Linked DNA regions of Homo sapiens: all the other regions are reported to be linked to region 1. Evidence: microRNA targets listed by miRTarBase, many of them from high-throughput screens and not tested one by one. Region 1 holds a microRNA gene; each other region holds the end of a gene's coding sequence.
The links. Region 1 holds the annotated microRNA hsa-miR-4514 (ACAGGCAGGAUUGGGGAA, at 2,651-2,668, shown strand). A microRNA usually pairs through its seed, bases 2 to 8, with sites in the 3' UTR of a target mRNA and lowers its output. Matches are read on the target gene's strand: a 7mer-m8 pairs with bases 2 to 8, a 7mer-A1 pairs with bases 2 to 7 and ends in A, and an 8mer does both.

Region 2: miRTarBase lists FBXO17 as a target of hsa-miR-4514. Seed matches in the 3' UTR shown: 8mer at 524-531 and 7mer-A1 at 755-761.
Region 3: the mRNA of ASGR2 is a reported target of hsa-miR-4514. The part of its 3' UTR that is shown has no 7-base or 8-base seed match.
Region 4: miRTarBase lists RPL7L1 as a target of hsa-miR-4514. Seed matches in the 3' UTR shown: 7mer-A1 at 729-735 and 7mer-A1 at 3,812-3,818.
Region 5: the mRNA of RMI1 is a reported target of hsa-miR-4514. Seed matches in the 3' UTR shown: 7mer-A1 at 2,944-2,950.

What each region holds. Positions count from the first base shown.
Region 1 is chr15:80,995,999-81,000,117 of GRCh38, reverse strand. It overlaps MIR4514 (microRNA 4514), which reads left to right and starts at 2,645; the gene lies at 2,645-2,701. RefSeq lists an enhancer at 2,061-2,562.
Region 2 is chr19:38,939,020-38,943,119 of GRCh38, reverse strand. It overlaps FBXO17 (F-box protein 17), which reads left to right. Exons shown (of 6, transcript NM_024907.7): 6 at 369-1,719. The coding sequence ends at 512. LOC124904713 (a long non-coding RNA gene) reads left to right here and starts at 1,722. Exons shown (of 2, transcript XR_007067253.1): 1 at 1,722-1,906.
Region 3 is chr17:7,098,054-7,102,172 of GRCh38, forward strand. It overlaps ASGR2 (asialoglycoprotein receptor 2), which reads right to left. Exons shown (of 9, transcript NM_001201352.2): 8 at 4,037-4,119; 9 at 3,273-3,687. The coding sequence ends at 3,522. Among named protein-coding and RNA genes, the nearest start is that of ASGR2, 15 kb to the right of the region's middle.
Region 4 is chr6:42,885,906-42,890,024 of GRCh38, forward strand. RPL7L1 (ribosomal protein L7 like 1) reads left to right here. Exons shown (of 6, transcript NM_001366481.3): 5 at 69-178; 6 at 351-3,995. The coding sequence ends at 559. Among named protein-coding and RNA genes, the nearest start is that of PEX39, 2.9 kb to the right of the region's middle.
Region 5 is chr9:84,002,376-84,006,476 of GRCh38, reverse strand. It overlaps RMI1 (RecQ mediated genome instability 1), which reads right to left. Exons shown (of 3, transcript NM_001358291.2): 3 at 2,403-4,101. The coding sequence ends at 3,613. Among named protein-coding and RNA genes, the nearest start is that of RMI1, 24 kb to the right of the region's middle.

The DNA.
Region 1 (4,119 bases):
CCTGATCAGCGCACTTTGCCCTCTCATAACGTCTATTTATTCGTCTGTATAATGGAATAATAGTGGCTGCTGTTAAATGAATTAAATACGACGGCGTTTGGAGGGAAACATTACTACTCCAGTTTTACAGATAAGGAAACTGATGATCAGGTGCTTGAAGTGACTTCCGAAGATCAGGAAGACAGCATATGGCAGGGACAGGAACCCACGCCTACGCCCCAGCCTCTTTTTACCGAACCTTGTTCTTCAGGAAGTGGTTAAAACACCTGGGCTACTCCCAGCAAAACGCCAGTCACGCAGTCCTGAAACAGGTCCTCTAAGGTGCCCAGCCCAACACAGGCTGGGCGTGCTGAGCCAACAGAATGTTTGTTCCTCTGTCCCTTCCTAGAACCCCAAGTCACCTTTCTCCAGCCAGTTAAAAACGTTACTTTTAACTAGGATGACGTTTCAATTTATCGGCCATATCCAAGCATTTCTGAGAATGAACTGTGAGACATGCTATTAATAAATTAACCATGAACAGCAGGTTCAAACCTGGATGGATAGTCATCCTACTTATAACTGAAAGTATCCTTAAATATCTTTAGAATCCGGATGAGCCCACTTAGTTTGCAAACCGAGGTCAATAAAACTGACTTGAAATAGGAAGTAATTATGTAGGGTTAATTCCTTTTTTTCTTCTACAAGAGAAAAAAAAAACAGCTGGATAAGTCAAGGTTTTTCCATGGTGACCCAGGGATTGCACCTTAGTCCTTCTTAAGCTCCAAAAACTTATGAGAGGGGGCCGAAAGCGATGGCTCACACCTGTAATCCCAGCACTTTGGGAGGCCAAGGCAGGCGCATCACGAGGTCAGGAGATCAAGACCATCCTGGCTAACACAGTGAAACCCCGTCTCTACTAAAAATGCAAAAAATTAGCCGGGCATGGTGGCGGGCGCCTGTAGTCCCAGCTACTCGGGAGGCTGAGGCAGGAGAATGGCATGAACCCGGGAGGCGGAGCTTGCAGTGAGCGGAGATCGCGCCACTGCACTGCAGCCTGGGCGACAGAGGGAGACTCCGTCTCAAAAAAAAATAAATAAATAAATAAATAAAACTTATGAGAGGGAAGTCAGACTGTTCTGTGCCTAGTTTATTCTTGAGGCTGCTCTAAGATCAGATTTTTTTTCCAAAGCCACGTAGTGCCCCTGGGGGTCCCATTTTCCCTTTCTTCTACATATGCAGTCTGTTTTGTTGTTGATGGAAACCCACCCCGACAATGAGTTGTGTTACACACAGACTGTCCACTCTATTCAGTGAGGTTTGGTTTCATTTTTAAAACTGATAGCATTGTTTTCTCGGCCTTCCCTGCTTCATTTTTCAGATAGGGAAGCTCCTAAACTGATCCTCCCAGGCACTGCCTCCACCTTTCTTTAGGTTCACCTTTACTTTGTCCGATTGTTCAATCACTCCACAATCACTGGGCACCAGTCTTGTGCTAGGCACCAAAGTTACATAATTTGTAATATGAGGCCCCCACTCTTTAGAGTCCAGGGATAGGAGTAGATTCACAAGAAACAGCCACAATTTCACTATTGGCACAGTGAGAGCACAGAGTAAAAAACCTATAGCAGAGATAATCAGGCTTCACAGATACAATATTTGTAGGTAGGCAGGGCCATGTGGTTCTGTCTGACCAATGAAATGTAAGGGGAAGCTATGCAGGTTACTTCTAGGCTGAGACAATGAAAAGCCAATCTGTAATTCTCCACTCTCTTGCCCTCCTATAACTACCACGGAGACTGCATTCTAGTTGGTGGAGCCTCTGTAAGCTTAGGTGACCATGTGGAGCAGACCCTCTTGATCTGTAGTGGACATGCAATGTGAACACAAAGTAAATTATTGGTGTGTTAAGTCACAGAGATTTGAGGGTTGTCTGTTGCTGTTGCATATTTTTAGTCTAATTAGAGGATGGCTTGTTGGTGTCTGCCCTTAGAGTCACTCAAGCAATGGCTTTTTCTTTAGAAAACTCCACCTATTACCCCTTCTAACCCTCTCAAAATTAAAATAAATATAAATCAAAAGTATTTGCTGTGATCTGACCCCCAAATTCATATGTTAAAACTTAATCACCAGTGTCACAGTATTACAAGGTGAGCCTTTGGGAGATGGTTAAGTCATGAGGTGGAGCCCTCTTGAATGGGGTTAGTGGCCTTATAAAAGAGGTGTGAGAGAGTTGTTCACCTCTTTTGCCCTTTCATCATGGGAGGATGCAGCAACATAGAGGACGCATCATCTATGAGGAATGGGCCCCTGCTGGGGCCTTGATCTTCTACTTCCCAGCTCTAGAGCTGTGAGCAATAAATTTCTATTAGTTATAAATTACCCAGTCTAAGGTATTTTGTTATAGCAGCTCAAATGGACTAAGTATTTTTTTTTTTAATGGATGTTGAGTGAGAGAAGAAAGCGGAAAATGTGTGGACTGAGGATTGGCTGAGGGAAGGTAAATGGAGTGGATGAGAGGGAGCTGGTAAATGGCCTGGCCCCTAGAGAATGCATTCTCAATACTGGCTCAAGGCCTACACTGAAATAGGCATCTGATGAAAAGTAAGTGAACAAGTTGCAAAGAGAGAACTGAGGATTTGGGCAGGACAAGAGGAACTGACAGGTTGAGACAGGCAGGATTGGGGAAACATCTTTTACCTCGTCTCTTGCCTGTTTTAGAAGGTGCATCCACCACTTGGTATAAGAGAACATTATGGGCATTCTGTTTTGTTTTTATGTTTTAAATCGTGGTAAAATAGCATAATATCATCTTACCCATTGTTAAGTACATTATCGTGCAACCATCACCATCCTCTATCTCCAGAAATGTTTAATCTTGCCCAACTGAAACTCCATACCCATTAAGTAACTGCTCCCCACTCCCCCTTCCTCCAGTCCCTGGCAACCACCATTCTACTTTCTCTATGAATTTGACTACCCTAGGTACCTCATGTTAGTGGAACCATACAATATTTGTTATTTTGTGCCTGGCTTATTTCACTTAACATAATATCTTTTTTTTTTTTTTTTTTTTTTTTGAGACGAGGTCCGGCTCTGTCTCCCAGGCTAGAGCACAGTGGCGCGATCTCGGCTCACTGCAAGCTCCGCCTCTCGGGTTCATGCCATTCTCCTGCCTCAGCCTCCCGAGTAGCTGGGACTGCAGGCACCCACCACCACACGCAGCTAATTTTTTTTTGTATTTTTAGTAGAGACGGGGTTTCACTGTGTTAGCCAGGATGGTCTCGATCTCCTGACCTCGTGATGCGCCTGCCTTGGCCTCCCAAAGTGCTGGGATTACAGGCATGAGCCACGTGCCCAGCCTTAACATAATGTCTTTAAGATTCATTGATATTATAGCATACATGGGAATTTCCCTTCTTTTTTATGGGTGAACGGTATTCCATTGTAAGCACTCCGGATCTTTTCATTCTATCAAAAATTTATTTATTTATTTATTTAGTAGCGAGAAAGTCTCAGAGACACAGTCTCACTTTGATATCCAGACTGGTCTCACACCCTTGGCCTCAAGTGGTCCTCTCACCTTAGCCTCCCAAAGTGCTGAGATTACAGGTGTGAGCCTGTCTGGCCACTCTGGGTTTTGATACCCAACTTTCACACTACCCCACACTTTACAGACCAACAACCATGCTGTGTTTGGTCTGTAGTGCCACCTGTTGGTCAGTAAGAGGCATTCTCTGCCCTAATTATTTTTCCCTTTGGAGCAATGTCCCTCTGTTTTGCTTTTGTGCACACAGATGGGCCAATTACATCTCAGGCTATCTTTCTTATACATATGCATTATTTCCCTTTCACTATCTGTTGTAAAAGAGAGGAATTTATATCTCTCCTTCTTTTCCCCAGATTCCTTCATTGTCATAGGTGATGCATGACAACAGCCCCTGGTTCACCAGGGAGCAAGATCACTGTCTAACACCTCGCTCTCCTTACCTGGCATGTCCTCTTGCTCTCTGGCATATTTTGTTCCCATCCAGTAAGAACACCTGGGCAGTACCTCACACATCACTCCCATTTCCTCCCCAGCCCCACTTTCCACCCTCCCTTCCTCCCTCCATGCTTTCTCTCTGTTCACCTGCAGCT
Region 2 (4,100 bases), not on the chromosome of region 1:
CCACCTCAGGGCCTTTGCGCGGGCCGTTCCTGCTGCCTGGGACACCCTCCAGAGCCCCTCCCGGCTCCCTCTCCTCCTTCAGGTGTCACCTCTGTGGGGCCTTTGCTAACTCACTCTACTCACATTCCTGCCACCTTCCTGGCAGAATGCCCCTGGCCCCTCACCCCCACCTATCTCCAGTGTCTGGGCCCCCTGCTAGAATGGCACTGACACCAGGGCGGGGTCCTTTTCCGGTTTTATTCACTGCTCCGTCCCCAGCAAACTAGCGCAGGACTGGCACCTCCTCAGTCCTTTGGGCCTATCTGTTGAAGTGGAGGAAGAGAAGGGGCCCGCAGGCCCTCACCCTCTCACTCCCCTTCCCCCTGCAGGTCTCCCACGTCTTCACCAACTTTGGCAAGGGCATCCGCTACGTATCTTTTGAGCAGTACGGGAGAGACGTGAGTTCCTGGGTGGGGCACTATGGCGCCCTTGTGACCCACTCCAGTGTGAGGGTCAGGATCCGTCTGTCCTAGCGACTGGACTACTGCCTGACGTTGTCAGTCAAGACCAGCCTTGCAGCCAGGTGCAGTGGCTCACACCTGTGGAATCCCAGCACTTCAGGAGGCCGAGGTGGGAGGATCACTGGAGCTCGGGAGTTCAAGACCAGCCTGGGCAACATAGTGAAACCGTCTCCACAAATAATTTTTAAAAAATTAGCCAGGCATGGTGGTGCCGCCTGTAGTCCCAGCTACTCAGGAGGCTTGGGTGGGAGGATTGCCTGAGACCAGGAGGTTGAGGCTGCAGTGAGCCGTGATTTCACCACCACTCCAGCCTGGGTGAGAAAGCAAGACCCTATATCAATGAAAAAAAAAAAAAAAAAGACCAGCTTTGCAGCCAGAAGCCAGAGGATACCCAGGGACAGTAGGGCTCCCAGGTGGCTGGTTCTCAGCACACCTTCCATGAATCTGCTTGCTGCTGCTTCAGTGTGGTGGCCATCATGCTGTGTGACAAACCAGGCTGTTCACAGCTTCCTCAGCCCCCCAGAAGGGGAGTGTCAGGAAGAGACATTTAGTTCATTTGCCTGCAAATTTTCTTCTCCTGCAAGGATCTCGGTGGACTCAGTCACAAAACAAAGGCTAAACCAGGATTTATAAGAGAGGGCTTATAAATCCCTCTGCCGACGCAGGGAGCAGAGACTTGCCGGCATGTTTTGGGGGTAATGATCGTGGGCAGGGAGCAGAGGTCCGCTGAGGCAGTCTGTCCTTGAGACTAACAAAGTCATCTGCTGTTTGGGGAAATCTCTGGTGTTGGGAACAGGCCCCCAAATCTGGCCATAAACTGGCCCCAAAACTGGCCATAAACAAAATATCTGCAGCACTGTGACATGTTTGTGATGGCCATGACCCCCACCCTGAAGGTTGTGGGTTTACTGGAACGAGGGCGAGGAACACCTGGCCCACCCAGGGCGGAAAACCGCTTAAAGGGGTTCCTGAACCACAAACCATAGCATAAGTGATCTGTGCCTTAACGACATGTTCCTGCTGCAGATAACTAGCCAGACCCATCCCTTTATTTCAGCCCATCCCTTTATTTCCTGTAAGAAATGTTTTTAGTTAATCTATAATCTATAGAAATAATGCTTATCACTGGCTTGCTGTCAATAAATATGTGGGTAAATCTCTGTTCAAGGCTCTCAGCTCTGAAGGCCGTGAGACCCCTGATTTCCCACTCCACACCCTATATTTCTGTGTATGTGTCTTTAATTCCTCTAGCACCGCTGGGTTAGGGTCTCCACAACCGAGCTGGTCTCGGCAAGTGGCACCCATACGTGGGGGCTCGAACCCAGGTCGAAGAGTCACTGGAGCGACGGTTGGAGAACGTGGAACTAAGCTGGAGGACACCCGAGTACTCTTAAGCAATCCCCATGGTGAGTAAGAAGGGGAGCTCGGAAGCATCAGGGTAGCAATGGGACAGGTGTGGGTTCTGGTTCATTCCACCTTGGAACCTTTTCACACTGATGAGGAGCAGGGAGAGTGTAATGAAGTAATGGAAGAGGTAACAGAGCAGGTTTGTTTGCCAGCTAAAGCTAAAGTGGCAAAGGAGGAAGAGGTTCATCCCTACCCTTCTGCATCCCCTCCTTAGTGTGAAGAAAAAGAGTGACCTGACCCTCCAGATCTTTCTTTTCCAGAGGACACTGGGTGAAAAGTAGTTGCCCCAGTGACTGTTTGGGCAGTGCCTCAAGCGACTGCTCTCAGTTCCATTCAGGCAGGAATTCAGCAAGCTAGAAGAGAGGGTGATTTAGAGGCTTGGCAGTTCCCTGTTAGAATACATCCCCCAGATCAACAGGGAAATATTACAGCTACATTTGAGCCTTTTCCTTTTAAATTACTCAAAGAATTTAAACAAGCTATTAATCAATATGGACCAGGTTCTCCTTTTGTAACGGGACTGTTAAAGAATGTTGCTGTTTCCAGTCGGATGATTCCTCCTGACTGGGACGCTCTTACTTGAGCTTGTCTAACTCCTGCTCAGTTCTTACAATTTAAAACTTGGTGGGCAGATGAAGCTTCCATTCAGGCTCCTCGCAACACCCAGGCCCAACCTCAAATTGATATAACTGCACACCAACTTTTGGGGGTCGGCGGCTGGGCTGGTTTAGATGCACAGGTGGTCATGCAGGATGATGCCATAGAGCAGCTTAGAGGAGTGTGCATCAGAGCTTGGGAAAAAATCACTTCAGGTGGAGAACAGTACCCTTCCTTTGGTGCTGTAAAACAGGGACCAAAAGAACCGTACACAGATTTTATAGCTCGGTTACAGGAGTATCTTAAAAAGGTGATTGCAGATTCGGCTGCTCAGGATATAGTGTTGCGGTTATTAGCTTTTGACAATGCTAATCTCAATTGCCAGGCTGCTCTGTGACCTATTAGAGGGAAAGCACATTTAGTTGATTATATCAAGGCCTGAGATGGTATCAGAGGTAATCTGCATAAAGCTACTTTGTTGGCACAGGCAATGGCAGGACTGAAAGTGGATAAAGGAAATACTCCATTTCCTGGAGCTTGTTTCAACTGTGGGAAGCATGGGCACACTAAAAAAGAATGCAGAAAAAAATCAGCAAGTCAGGCCGGCAGACAGGGGAAAAAAGAAAACTGCTGAGCCTGATATATGTCCAAAATGTAAAAAAAGGAAAACATTGGGCTAATCAGTGTCACTCTAAGTTTGATAAAGATGGGAACCCGATTTCGGGAAATGCCATGAGGGGCCCATCCCGGGCCCTGTTCGAAACCAGGGGCATTTCCGCCTCAGGCCACTCCTTCACCCCTGTACAATGTCTGTCCCCTGCCACAGCCAGTAATGCCACAGTAGATTTATGCTGCACAAAAGCTGTGAGCCTTCTGCCTGAGGAACCCCCGCAAAAAGTTCCAACAGGGGTCTGTGGACCCTTGCCAGTGGGGACAATAGGATTACTTCTAGGGAGGTGTAGTTTAAATTTAAAGGGGGTACAAGTACAAACAGGAGTCACTGATTCAGATTACAATGGAGAAATTCAAATTGTTTTTTCTACTTCTGTTCCCTGGAAAGCAGAGCCAGGAGAGCGCATAGCACAGCTCCTGAATGTGCCATATGTGGGAATGGGAAAAAGTGAAATTAAACGAACAGGAGGATTTGGAAGCACAAATAAACAAGGCAAAACAGCTTATTGGGTGAATCAAATTACTGATAAACGTCCTACCTGTGAAATAACTATTCAGGGAAAGAAATATAAAGGTTTGGTAGATACAGGAGCGGACATTTCATTTCTCTATAGCAATGGCCGTCCACATGGCCAATTCAACCTGCTCAGTTTAACATAGTTGGAGTTGGTAAAGCCCCTGAAGTATATCAAAGTAGTTATATTTTGCATTGTGAAGGGCCTGATGGACAACCTGGGACTATTCAACCAAAACTTCTGTACCTATAAATTTATGGGGAAGATATTTATTACAACAATGCGGAGCACAAGTTCTAATTCCAGAACAATTATATAGCCCTCAAAGTCAACATATGATGCATGAAATGGGGTATGTCCCTAGTATGGGACTAGGAAAAAATTTACAAGGTTTGAAGGAACCGCTTCA
Region 3 (4,119 bases), not on the chromosome of region 1:
GAATATGAGGCAAATTTTTTTAATGGAATACTGACTACTTTCAGAAGAAATGAGAGTTGTGCAAGAAAGGGAATGTAATCAGATTATAGTAGTTGACTCAGCAGTAACCATATTGACACAGATACAACTGATACAAATTTTAAAGTAGTATTTAAATATAAATTGTAGACTACATTGGAAGATTTTACCTCGTTTACATGATAGCGACTAAATAATGTCTACAACTCATACGAAGATGAAATATCAGTTTGTGTGTCTTACTTAGAACTGCAGATGTCAGTACTAGAAGAAACAGCTAGAATCACTGAAAGCAGTTTCTCCAGGCAGCAAGAGGAGCTAAAGGGGGCAGGTCAAGTAACCTAGAGCCCTGTAAAACTTCTAGTTTTATAGACTTTATACTTCTAGTTTTATAGACTTTATAAAATTTCTACTTTTCTATAAAAATTCTAGTCCTATAAAACTTTAGAGTGTATTATTACTTCCATAATTTATTTTTTGAGAAAAGATCTCGCTGTCTTACCCAGGCTGCAGTGTAGTGACACAGTCACAGCTCACTGCAGCTTCAATTTCCTGGGCTCAAACTATCCCCTCATCTCAGCCTCCCAAGTAGCTGGGACTGCAGGGATGCACCACCACATCCAGCTGGGGTGTGTGTGTGTGTGTGTGCATGTTGTACAGACTGGGTTTCGCCATATTGCCCAGGCTAGTCTCAAACTCCTGAGCTCAGGCGACCCACCACCTCAGCCTCTCAAAATGCTAAGATTATAGGCATGAGCCATTGCACCCAGCCTATTTTCACGGTTTTTTAAATTTAATCCCAATCGTGTACATTTTGAAGGGGCAATCCTAGAAAATTTTTCAACTGAAAAGTGGGAAGTCTTGACCTATCCCAAGCTTATGAGCAAAAAAATTACTTTGAAACATTCTATGTGAAAACAAAGAAACAAAAGTGGTAACTACTTGCCCCCTACAGAGAATGATTACATAATGCATGGTACATCCCTACTTTGGAATTCTCTACAGCTGCTAAATCCAAGGAGGTAAAACCTGCCAGGTAATGGCATAGATTAGACTGGTGTCCACGAGACACTGTGAAGCGGAACAGGCACTATGTAATGACATAATATTGCATCTACTCATGTACACAGGAAGGGCTCTGGCAGGGGACACAGGAAAGAGTTGACTCTGGGGAGACGGAGGAGGACTGAGAGGACACTCGTGTGCGTGCGTGTGTGTGTGTCATTTAAAACATTTTTTTACTAATAGAATGTATTACTTCTGTACTTTAAAAATTTAAAAATATGGGGCCGGGCCCCGTGGCTCATGCCTATAATCCCAGCACTTTGGAAGGCAGAGGCGGGCGGATCACCCGAGGTCAGGAGTTCAAGATCAGCCTGGCCAACATGGCGAAACGCTGTTTCTACTAAAAATACAAAAATTAGCTGGGTGTGGTGGCGCATGCCTGTAATCCCAGCTACTCGGGAGGCTGAGGCAGAAGAATCGCTTGAACCCGGGAGGTGGAGGTTGCAGTGAGCCAAGACCGCACCATTGCACTCCAGCCTGGGCAACACAGCAAGACTCCAACTTAAATAAATAATATAACCGCTGAATAGTCTTTTTAAGGTCAGTTTCAGAATGTTCTTGGAGCGGGAAGTTTGCCCACTGTGGAGATTGTTGGTGACACCCTGTGTTGAAGATATGTCTAGATCCGCTTGGGGTCAAAAAGACAGAGCCACGGTGGTGAGAAAGTGACTTACCCATCCTCCTCCTCGTCGTGACCATTTTCCTTGAAGGCTGAGAGTGGAGCTGGGGTATGCCCTGCGACCCGGTCTGGGGAGAACCCAACCGCAGAGAAAGATGTTTCCTTTGGGAGCCCTGGTGTGTCCGGAATTGGTGGGTTCTTGGTCTCACTGACTTCAAGAATGAAGCCGCGGACCCTCGCGGTGAGTGTTACAGTTCTTAAAGGCGGCGTGTCTGGAGTTTGTTCCTTCTGATGTTCAGATGTCTTCAGAGTTTCTTCCTTCTGGTAGGTTCATGGTCTCACTGGCTCAGGAGTGAAGCTGCGGAACTTCGTGGTGAGTGTTACAGCTCTTAAGGCAGTGTGGACCCAAAGAGTGAGCAGCAGCAAGATTTATTGCAAAGAGCGAAAGAACAAAGCTTCCACAGTGTGGCAGGGGACCCGAGTGGGTTGCCGCTGCTGGCTGGGGCAGCCTGCTTTTATTCTCTTATCTGGCCTGATTGGTGCGTTTACAATCCCTGAGCTAGGCACAAAGGTTCTCGACTTCCCGACCAGAGTAGCTAGATACAGAGTGTCAATTGGTGCATTCACAAACCCTGAGCTAGACACAGGGTGCTGATTGGTGTGTTTACAAACCTTGAGCTAGATACAGAGTGCCAATTGGTGCATTTACAATCCCTTAGCTAGACATAAAGGTTCTTCAAGTCCCCACCAGACTCAGGAGCCCCGCTGGCTTCACCCCATGGATCCTGCACTGGGGCCGCAGGTGGAGCTGCCTGCCAGTCCCGCGCCCTGCGCCCGCACTCCTCAGCCCTTGGGTGGTCGATGGCACTGAGCGCGCCCTGGAGCAGGGGGCGGCGCTGGTCGGGGAGGCTCGGGCCGCACAGGAGCCCACGGAGCGGGGGTCGGGGAGGCTCAGGCATGGCGGGCTGCGGGTCCCAAGCCCTGCCCCGCGGGAAGGCAGCTAAGGCGTGGCGAGAAATTGAGCACAGCAGCTGCTGGCTCAGGTGCTAAGCCCATCACTGCCCGCGGCCGGTGGGGCAGGCCGGCCACTCCGAGTGCGGGGTCCGCCGAGTCCACGCCCACCCGGAAATCGCGCTGGCCCGCAAGCGCCGCTCCCTCCACACCTCCCTGCAAGCTGAGGGAGCCGGCTCCGGCCTTGGCCAGCCCGGAAAGGGGCTCCCACAGTGCAGCGGCGGGATGAAGGGCTCCTCAAGTGCCGCCAAAGTGGGAGCCCAGGCAGAGGAGGCGCCGAGAGCGAGCGAGGGCTGTGAGGACTGCCAGCACGCTGTCACCTCTCACTGGGAGCCAGGCGGACCCTCCAGCCACAGCCCGGCCGACCCCTTTCCCACCAGTGCCAGCCACTAAGCCTGTCTGCTCCAAGCCCCTTTCCCGTTTCCCTGACCAATGTCCCTCGGGATTAGGGACCAAGGAGCAGCTGTCTAGGATGCGCGCCTTGCGTCTTCCATGCCCTCCCCTCTCCCTCCTCTTTGCATGCTGTTTCTCAGTTCCCAATAACCAGGCCACACAGAGATTCAAGCATTTGTTTCTTCTTTCCTACGCCATTGAAGAGGCTGACGATTATAATAATTACAATGAATTACAGAAGGAGGTGGGATCTCAGTCCTCCAGGGTCAGGGACTCTTAAACTACCTCCTTTCTCTCTTTGCTCAGCTCTTCCCCATACCCCTGTCTCAGTGTTTCTTCCTTTCCTCAAAATCCTCAACAGAGAAGCCAGAGCTGGGCAGGTGTGGGGTATGGGTTAGCCAGAGGTGTGCTGGGGTCAGGCCACCTCGCCGGTGGCATTCCGCCTTTTCTCACACACCCAGCGGTACACCTGCAGGCAGAAGTCATCGTTCCAGCGGCCATCCGGCTGGACTTCAACACAGTCTTCACTTCCACCCAGCTCGTGCCCGTGCCAATTATCTGGCTGAGTGACAGCCCAGTTCCTAAGGAGGCAAGAGAAAACTCGGACTCTGCCACGGTGGTGAGAAAGCGACTTACCCATCCTCCTCCTCTTCATGACCATTTTCCTTGAAGGCCGAGAGTGGAGCTGGGGTGTGCCCTGCTACCCAGTCTGGGGAGAACCCAACCGCAGAGAAAGATGTTTCCTATGCCCAGTCCCAGCAACCCTCACCCCCAGCCCAGAAGAGCACAGCTTTGGAGGGGTTGGAGTCTGGGGAGGAGAGGATTGGGGAATTTGGTCCCTGAGGGACGAGTCAGGGTAGCTTGGAGTGAAAGGCCAGGGGGCTGTCCCCAGAGAAATCTAACAAGGAGATGAGGGAAGAGGCCACTTACTTGTAGTTGTGCCTATAGTCTGTGCCATCCACCCATTTCCAAGAGCCATCACTGTCCGTGAGACCTATCCAGGTATTGAAGGG
Region 4 (4,119 bases), not on the chromosome of region 1:
CCAGGCTGCAGGACTGGTATGTAGTGTGCCAGGTGCTGGTGAAAACCGTGCTTTATTTTCCTACATAGATTTCCAAATCTGAAGTCTGTCCGAGAACTCATTTTGAAACGTGGACAAGCCAAGGTCAAGAATAAGACCATCCCTCTGACAGACAATACAGTGATTGAGGAGCACCTGGGTGAGTGCTACAGCTTAGGGATCAGCTGGGGCAGAAAGCCAGGGTCTTTGAAGCTTTGATGTGAGATTCAGGTTGTATTCTTCTTGGGGCCCCAAGAGTCTGCCAGAGTGGCCAGCTTAGTATATGCTGGATACATGTTAAATAAAGGAATCTGTGCTTTTGTGTTTCTTAGGGAAGTTTGGCGTCATTTGCTTGGAAGACCTCATTCATGAAATTGCCTTCCCAGGGAAGCATTTCCAGGAGATCTCATGGTTCTTGTGCCCTTTCCACCTCTCAGTGGCCCGTCATGCTACCAAAAATAGAGTGGGCTTCCTCAAGGAGATGGGCACACCTGGCTATCGGGGTGAACGCATCAATCAGCTCATCCGTCAGCTGAACTAGACCCAGGTGAGGCAGGGCTGAAAACTGCCCTTGGGCTGACTTTTGATAGGCCATGCCTTGCCACTTTACAAGTTCTTTTTGCATTTACTAGTATTTAAGAGTAACCTTGAGATTGGGAGGAATAGAGGAGGCTGGTACAAATAGATGGAGACCTGCTGGGATCAGTGAATGCCTGATTAGGACATGGGGCTATGCATAGCCTAAGAGTTATAGGCTTAAAGATGTCGAGTAACTAAAAACTGTATTGCTGGCCGGGCGCGGTGGCTCACGCCTGTAATCCCAGCACTTTGGGAGGCCAAGGCGGGCAGACCATGAGGTCAGGAGATTGAGACCATCCTGGCCAACATGGTGAAACCCTGTCTCTACTAAAAATACAAAAATGAGCTGGGTGTGGTGGCGCGTGCCTGTAGTCCCAGCTACTCGAGAGGCTAAGGCAGGAAAATCGCTTGAACCCAGGAGGCAGAGATTGCAGTGAGCCAAGATTGCACCAGTGCACTCCAGCTGGGCGACAGAGCGAGACTCCATCTCGGAAAAAAAAAAAAAAAAACTATTGCTGCAGTCATTCAGATGGAAATGAGGAAAGAATAATATTAATAACTGATTTCAAAAAGGACTTGAAGATGTGAATCATCTATTTTGCTGAAGAAATCTTAACTCTTTGAAATTACTTTTTATTGCTGTTGTCATACTCTTAGGTGCCAAACTGCGGTAAATTTTTTATCAGTGAAGTGGAAGCATGTGTTTTGTTTTGGAAATTTTTATCAAGTATCTTCAGAGAAGATTATTTCCTGCTTTATCTTCAGAAACTGGAAAGGGTCAAAGAAAAGACAGTAGCTGGCCGGTCGTGGTGGCTCATGCCTGTAATCCCAACACTTAGGGAGGCTGAGGTGGGCAGATCACCTGAGGTTGGGAGTTCGAGACCAGCCTGACCAACATGGAGAAATGCCATCTCTACTAAAAATACAAAAATTAGCCGGGCATGGTGGCACGTGCCTGTAATCCCAGCTACTCAGGAGGCTGAGGCAGGAGAATCGCTTGAACCTGGGAGGTGGAAGTTGCAGTGAGCTGAGATCACGCCATTGCACTCCAGCCTGGGCAACAAGCGAAACTCTGTCTCAAAAAAAAAGAAAAGACAGTAGCATATGTTCATGTCAAGCACCTCTCATCACAGTCGAGTTCCAAGGAAAAATTCCAGTGTTTTCTGCATTGGGTGCTGTGTCATCTGAAATCGGCACATTCCATGGAGGAAGGAGTCCTGCTTTGTTGCATGTATCCTAGGGTTTAATGTTGGTAAATGAGTCACTCTAGCATTTGTAGAAGGCTCCCTGAGACTCCTGCAGCAGTCGACCAAGCCCAAGGACATAATTGAATCTGGAGAGTCCTGGGGCCTTGTTTTGAAAAAGACTTGAAATACACATAGGAAGAAAGGCATAAAAATAAATGTTCACTTGTCTCTGCTGTGAGTATGTGTTCCAACTTTTCAGTGATGGCTTTGAGAATTCTCAAACTTGACTGGCTCTAAGTGTATCTGGTGGCTTTTGTATCGTAACCTGAAACTGGCTTAGTACTTTTTCCTAAAAGCTCAGGATTTGAGAATGAGGACCCCTTCGCCAGGAAAACATGTATACACTCAAAATTTTGCTTGCAGTTCTAGGGTGTTTAGACCCTTCTCAGATACCTGTGCATCTTATGGGTTTTGTTTTTCTCTTTGAGACAGTCTCACCCTGTTGCCCAGGCTGGAGCGCAGTGGCATGATCTCAGCTCATTGCAGCCTCCACCTCCTGGGTTCAAGTGATTCTGCCTCAGCCCCTTGATCAGCTGGGATTACATGCATGTACCACCACACCCAGCTAATTCTTGTATTTTTAGTAGAGATGGAGACAGAGTTTCACCATGTAGGCCAGGCTAGTCTCAAACTCCTGACCTCAAGTGATCCACAAGCCTGGGCCTCCCAAAGTGCTGGGATTACAGGCATGAGCAACTGCGCCCAGCTCTTGTGTACCTTATGTGAGGAAGTCCTGCTCAATCAGGATCGGTCACGCAGGCCCTGATCTTGCTACTCTGGTTCCATGTCCTATGGAAGACCAAAGTTTACCAAGATAGATTTTTCCCTTCATAGTGGCAGATAGTGTTAACCCCTGCACCATCTGTAACTCAGAAATCCCCACCATTTCTTCCCCTGGGCTTCAGAATAGAATTGCCTGGTTTCTCTGATGATCAGCATGGTTCCTTAAAACCCAAATCAGCAAGGAATGAACAATTTTGTTTGGCATGGATGAAATTAGCACTGTTTGGCTCGTTAGGCCCCAGGCAGGCAGGCACCTTAATTTTTTCCTTGCATATTCTAGTCTTCAGAAGCATTGCCTTTTGTCCTACTGGTAGTGACATAGACCAATAACAGGGCATCTGGGGATTTTAATCCTGAAAACAGTGAGTCTGATACTGCTTGTGTTTTTCATCAGTGTCCACCCCAAGTGGGTCTTCCTGCTATTCTCTTCACTTAGTTGCCCCTCACTTGCCATCTGAGCAATTGGCAAGGATGTGCCAGGCCTAGGTTAAACTTGGAAACATGCTTGACCATTCTATTCCCTGGTCCTTTAAGATCAGTTTGGCTGCAATTTTGGCTCCTTGGACCCTCAAGCATAGCTGGTAAATCAAGTTAGAGATGTAACTGCCTTAAAACATGCCAGCTTAGGCTGGGCACGGTGGCTCACACCTGTAATCTCAACACTTCAGGAGGCTGAGGCAGGCAGATCACTTGAGGTCAGGAGTTCGAGACCAGCCTGACCAACATGGAGAAATTCTGTCCCTACTGAAAATACAAAATTAGCCGGATGTGGTGGTGCATGCCTGTAATCCCAGCTACTTGGGAGGCTGAGGCAAGAGAATTGCTTGAACCCAGGGAGGCAGAGGTTGCAGTGAGCCGAGATCACACCATTGCACTCCACCTTGGGCAACAAAAGCAAAACTCTGTCTCAAAAAAAAAAAAAAAAAAAGTGCCAGCGTATGAGGTAATTAGATTGGTTCTCTCCAGAGGTAACCTGCCAAGAAGAGATGCTATAGATGTTACTCCTATACTGTAAAACATTGTGAAATCAGATTACTTTAAAATGATGTATTACAAAGTTATGCAAAAAAGCAGTTGTGACTATGGAAGCCCAAGGCTTATATCCCAGCTCTGTCTTACACTAAATATGGGTACAGTGTTTCCACTCTGTCCATAAAATGGGAGCTAATATTCTCCAACCTGTGTGCCTGACATGATGGTTAAAGGGATTAAACAAAACAATAGTTTGTAATTTATTCTGTCAGAGCAAACTGCTGGTAAATAAAAGGGACTAAGTTGACGAAAAATAAATTTTAAAAAACCTAATAAAACAAGTTTGTAATTTATAATTGTATACAAATAAAAGATGTTACAAAAATTGCGCACTTATATGTATGTACCATGACATAACTAATTCGTTGAACAAGTTGTGAGACAATCCTTTCTGAGAAAAGGTAGACCTGTTACATCGTCTGTGGGTTAGGGTCATGTCAGCACGTACCAGGTACATTCT
Region 5 (4,101 bases), not on the chromosome of region 1:
CATTTTTTCCTTGTCATTATTCTCTAAACAATACAATATAACAACTATTTACATAGCAGTTACATTGTATTAAGCACTTTAGGAGGCAGAGGCAGGACAATTGCTTGAGGACAGGAGTTGGAGACCAGCCTGGCCAACATGGTGAGACACTATCTCTACAAAAAAAGTTTAATTAGCTGGGCGTGGTGGCATACACCTGTGGTCCCAGCTACTCGGCAGGCTGACACAAGAGGATCACTTGAACCCAGGAGGTCAAGGCCGAAGTAAGCTGTAATTGTGTCACTGCACTCTAGCCAGGGTGACAGAACAAGACCCTGTCTCAAACAAAAAAAAAGAATTATAAGTAACCTAGAAATTAAATTATTTAAAGTATATGGGAGTATGTGCATAGGTTATATGCAAATACTGTGCCATTTTATATCAGAAACTTGAGCATCTGGATGTTGGTATCCGTGGAAGGTTCGAAACCAGTCCCTCATGGATATCAAAGGGCTACTGTACTCTGAAAGCAGAGTCACTCCCAAGAGAAAGAGAAAGCTCATCTGATTATGCTTATTTTTTTCTTCCCATTTGCTTCTCCCAGGAACTCTTAGGATCGTTCTTTTTTGTGTTAAATTATTAGGCCGGAGATTACCGTGCAGGTAACTTTTAAGTGTCTGGTTAGCCCCACATAAGCACAGACCTATGGCTACAAATTCTCAGGGAAAAGAACACATTTTCCCCCACCCAACCAGAATCTAAACCAAGTCATCCAAGTTTTCTCAGTCACTCTTTACTATAGGCCAGATTTTTCTAATCTATTCTTTTTTTTTTGAGATGGAGTCTCACTGTCGCCAGGCTGGAGTGCAGTGGCACGATCTTGGCTCACTGCAGTCTCCGCCTCCCAGGTTCAAGCAATTCTCCTGCCTCAGCCTCCCGAGTAGCTGGGACTACGGTGCGCACCGCCATGCTGAGCTAATTTTTTTGTATTTTTAGTAGAGACAGGGTTTCATCATGTTGGCCAGGATGGTCTTGATCTCCTGACCTTGTGATCCGCCTGCCTCAGCCTCCCAAAGTGCTGGGATTACAGGCTTGAGCCACCACGCCCGGCCCTAATCTATTCTTTCACTAAAGAGAGCAGCTCTTTGAGATGCTGTGTATGCATAGATGTCAGGGCTTTAAGTACCATGCTATTGGAATGGATGACGGGAAATCACAAAAGATATTAGGCAACAGAAGATGATCAGATTTGATGAAATATTACTGGAGCTACAAGGTAAACCCCTCAACCATACTGTCAAGCAGCTTATATTCCAACAGAACAATGGTTCTCAACTGGGGGCATCTCCAGCTCCAGTGACTATCTGGCAATGCCTGGAGAGATTTTTGGTTGTCACAGCTGGAAGGATGCTGCTCACATCCAGTGGGCAGAGGCCAAAGATGTTGCTAAATATCCTACAATGCACACAGGACAGCCCCATAAGACTTATCCTACCAAAAACGTAGCAGCAGAATAACAGAGAAACAAGCACAGTAAAAACACACATAATATTAGTCTGTACAACGTACAGGAGAGCATGCAAGTGGGCAGGGGAATTCATGAAACACTGTAACAGGCACCTAAAGCTTAAACTGAATTGGAAATGATTTAGGAAGGTAGGGGGATCAGGCACTATAAGCATGAGTATGAAAGTAAGAGGTATATTCTTCCACATGTTTAGTGCACTACAAATAACTTGGTACCCCTAAAACTCAGAGGCAAAGAGTAATGGGGCAAGATAAGGCTAAAAAAGAAGTCAGGGGCCAGATCACGAAAGTCCTTACTTACTCAATGAGGAGTTTGGACTTCACCCTATAAGTAATGGGGTGGGAGGAGGTTGGTATTAAAGGTTAATGAAGAGAAAACAAGAAGAAACTTATTTTCGAAAGATCACTCTGCTAACATTATGGAGTACGGTTTGAGGGCAAAATAAGATAAAAGACCAATTAGTAAACCACTGCAGTAATCCAGGCCAGAGAAGACTAGAAACAGGATGTACCAAGAACCAATATAGTAGCATAGATTGATAAAAAGTACGATAGCCAGTCTTTAATGACAATATGAAAAGAAGTTCTAATCCCAATTTTCAAGCCCCATTCACAGAGATGAGAGTATAGAAGGAGAAAATTTAATGAAAAGATAATGAAAGATAAAGCTATCCCATTCAGATCACTTATTAAAAAGCTATGCAAGTATATAGACAAGATTATTACTAGGGCATATATTAGCAATATCTGTGTCCTGGTGCTTTGAACCCTGATACAACAATGAAAATATTTTAAAATCTTTCTCTTCTACTTCTATTATCATACATCATACATGTATTTATCTTACTTCCTGATATTTCGTTACATTATTTTCAATAAAATAAAACACCAATGTATTTTGTTATTTAAGGATTTGTTTAATGTTTTAAAATTCAAAGCACTTTAAATTATTTTAAGACAAAAGATTAATAAAAACAACATTACCTTTCAAATACAACTTTATAACAGCACAGTGGAAGAATGGTAAACAGTCCCTCTTTTTTTTAAAAAAAAATCAGTACTTAAAACCAAAGGAAGGCTTATATGTACAGCTAATTCAGAAAGGGAACAATGACACCTAAAGACATAGATAAATGCTTCATTTTAATCCAATAAATGTCCTACCTACTGGATCTTAATAATGATGTTTTCAATATGCCATTTAAAATAAACTATCCTTGAAAATAAAGTTTTAAATCATTCAATATAATCTATGAAATAGCATCTAGTTAACTAGATTACCTTAAATATACCAAATATTATAATCAGCAAAATAAAAACCAGTAAATCAATTTGTATCTGAAAGCCTGATGTTCTGATCTACTGGATTTTAATTTTTTTTCCCTAAGATTAACAATATAAACAAATCTTTTGGGTACTCAACATATTATGACAAGCTCAGGCATGTTCAGGGTGGTATGGCCATAGACAGTACCAACATATTAGAAGGAAATTACCTATTTATAATTATTAACTTTCAAAAATATGACTCACCACCGAACACCAGTACAATATTTTAGCAATCATCTTATGTGACGTGACAAGTGGAAAACAAATTTCTCAACAATAGTGGGTCACCATATTCCTCCATCTAACAGTTACTTTTAAAAAAAGTAAACTTTGGAGGCCATGACGGCAGGAGTGAGAGGCCAGGAGTTTGAGACCAATCTGGGCAACATAGCAAAACTCTGTCCCTACAAAACAATAATAGTAATTATAAATTAGCTGGGCATGGTGGTACATGCCTATAGTCCCAGCAACTCAAGAGGCTAAGGCAGGAGGATCGCTTGAGCTCAAGAGGTTGATGCAATAACCTATGATCATGCCACTGCACTCTAGCCTGGGCAACAGAGCAATACCCTGACATTAAAAAAAAAAAAAAAAAGATTAACTTATTTTCAAAAGCTCCACATATAACAAACATGATTAAACACTTTAAAATTAAACTGAAATAAGCTATGAAATTTCATTTTTCCTTTTTACACAAAGTATCATAAGTAAAATTGTGAACAAATTCTAAATATTTCCTTGTTGTTTTTAATTGTTCCTAATACTATTTTAGTTTAATTATTTATTTAACCGCTTCTTTAGATTCTCAAGGTGTTCCATATTAACATCTTGTAATGCCAGTACCATTGCTTTAGACAAGGAAGGATTAAATGAAATAGTCATTAGACAGCACAAATCTATTAGATCTCTTTGACATTTCTGCAACCCTTCCAGGAACTTTTGGTATTGAAGAGGATCCTTTTTTGACTGTTTCATTTCTGGTACTGAGAACCCTATCAAGCTAGTAAGTATTTCATCCACAAAGTCTACATCTAGATATGCAGTACCATCAGACACCTTTGCAGTTATACTCCAAATACCACCAGAACTTGAGAGATTTCCAGTTAAGGTTACAATAAATGCTTTCACTTTCACTGTTGTAACTTCCTTTGGTTTGCTGGCCATTAGAACAGACAAATAGACAAAGGGTGGAGAATACAAATCCATGGCAATAGAAAGATTAATGCTATTCTCTGATGATCTTAAAGAACAACTCTGTAAATTACA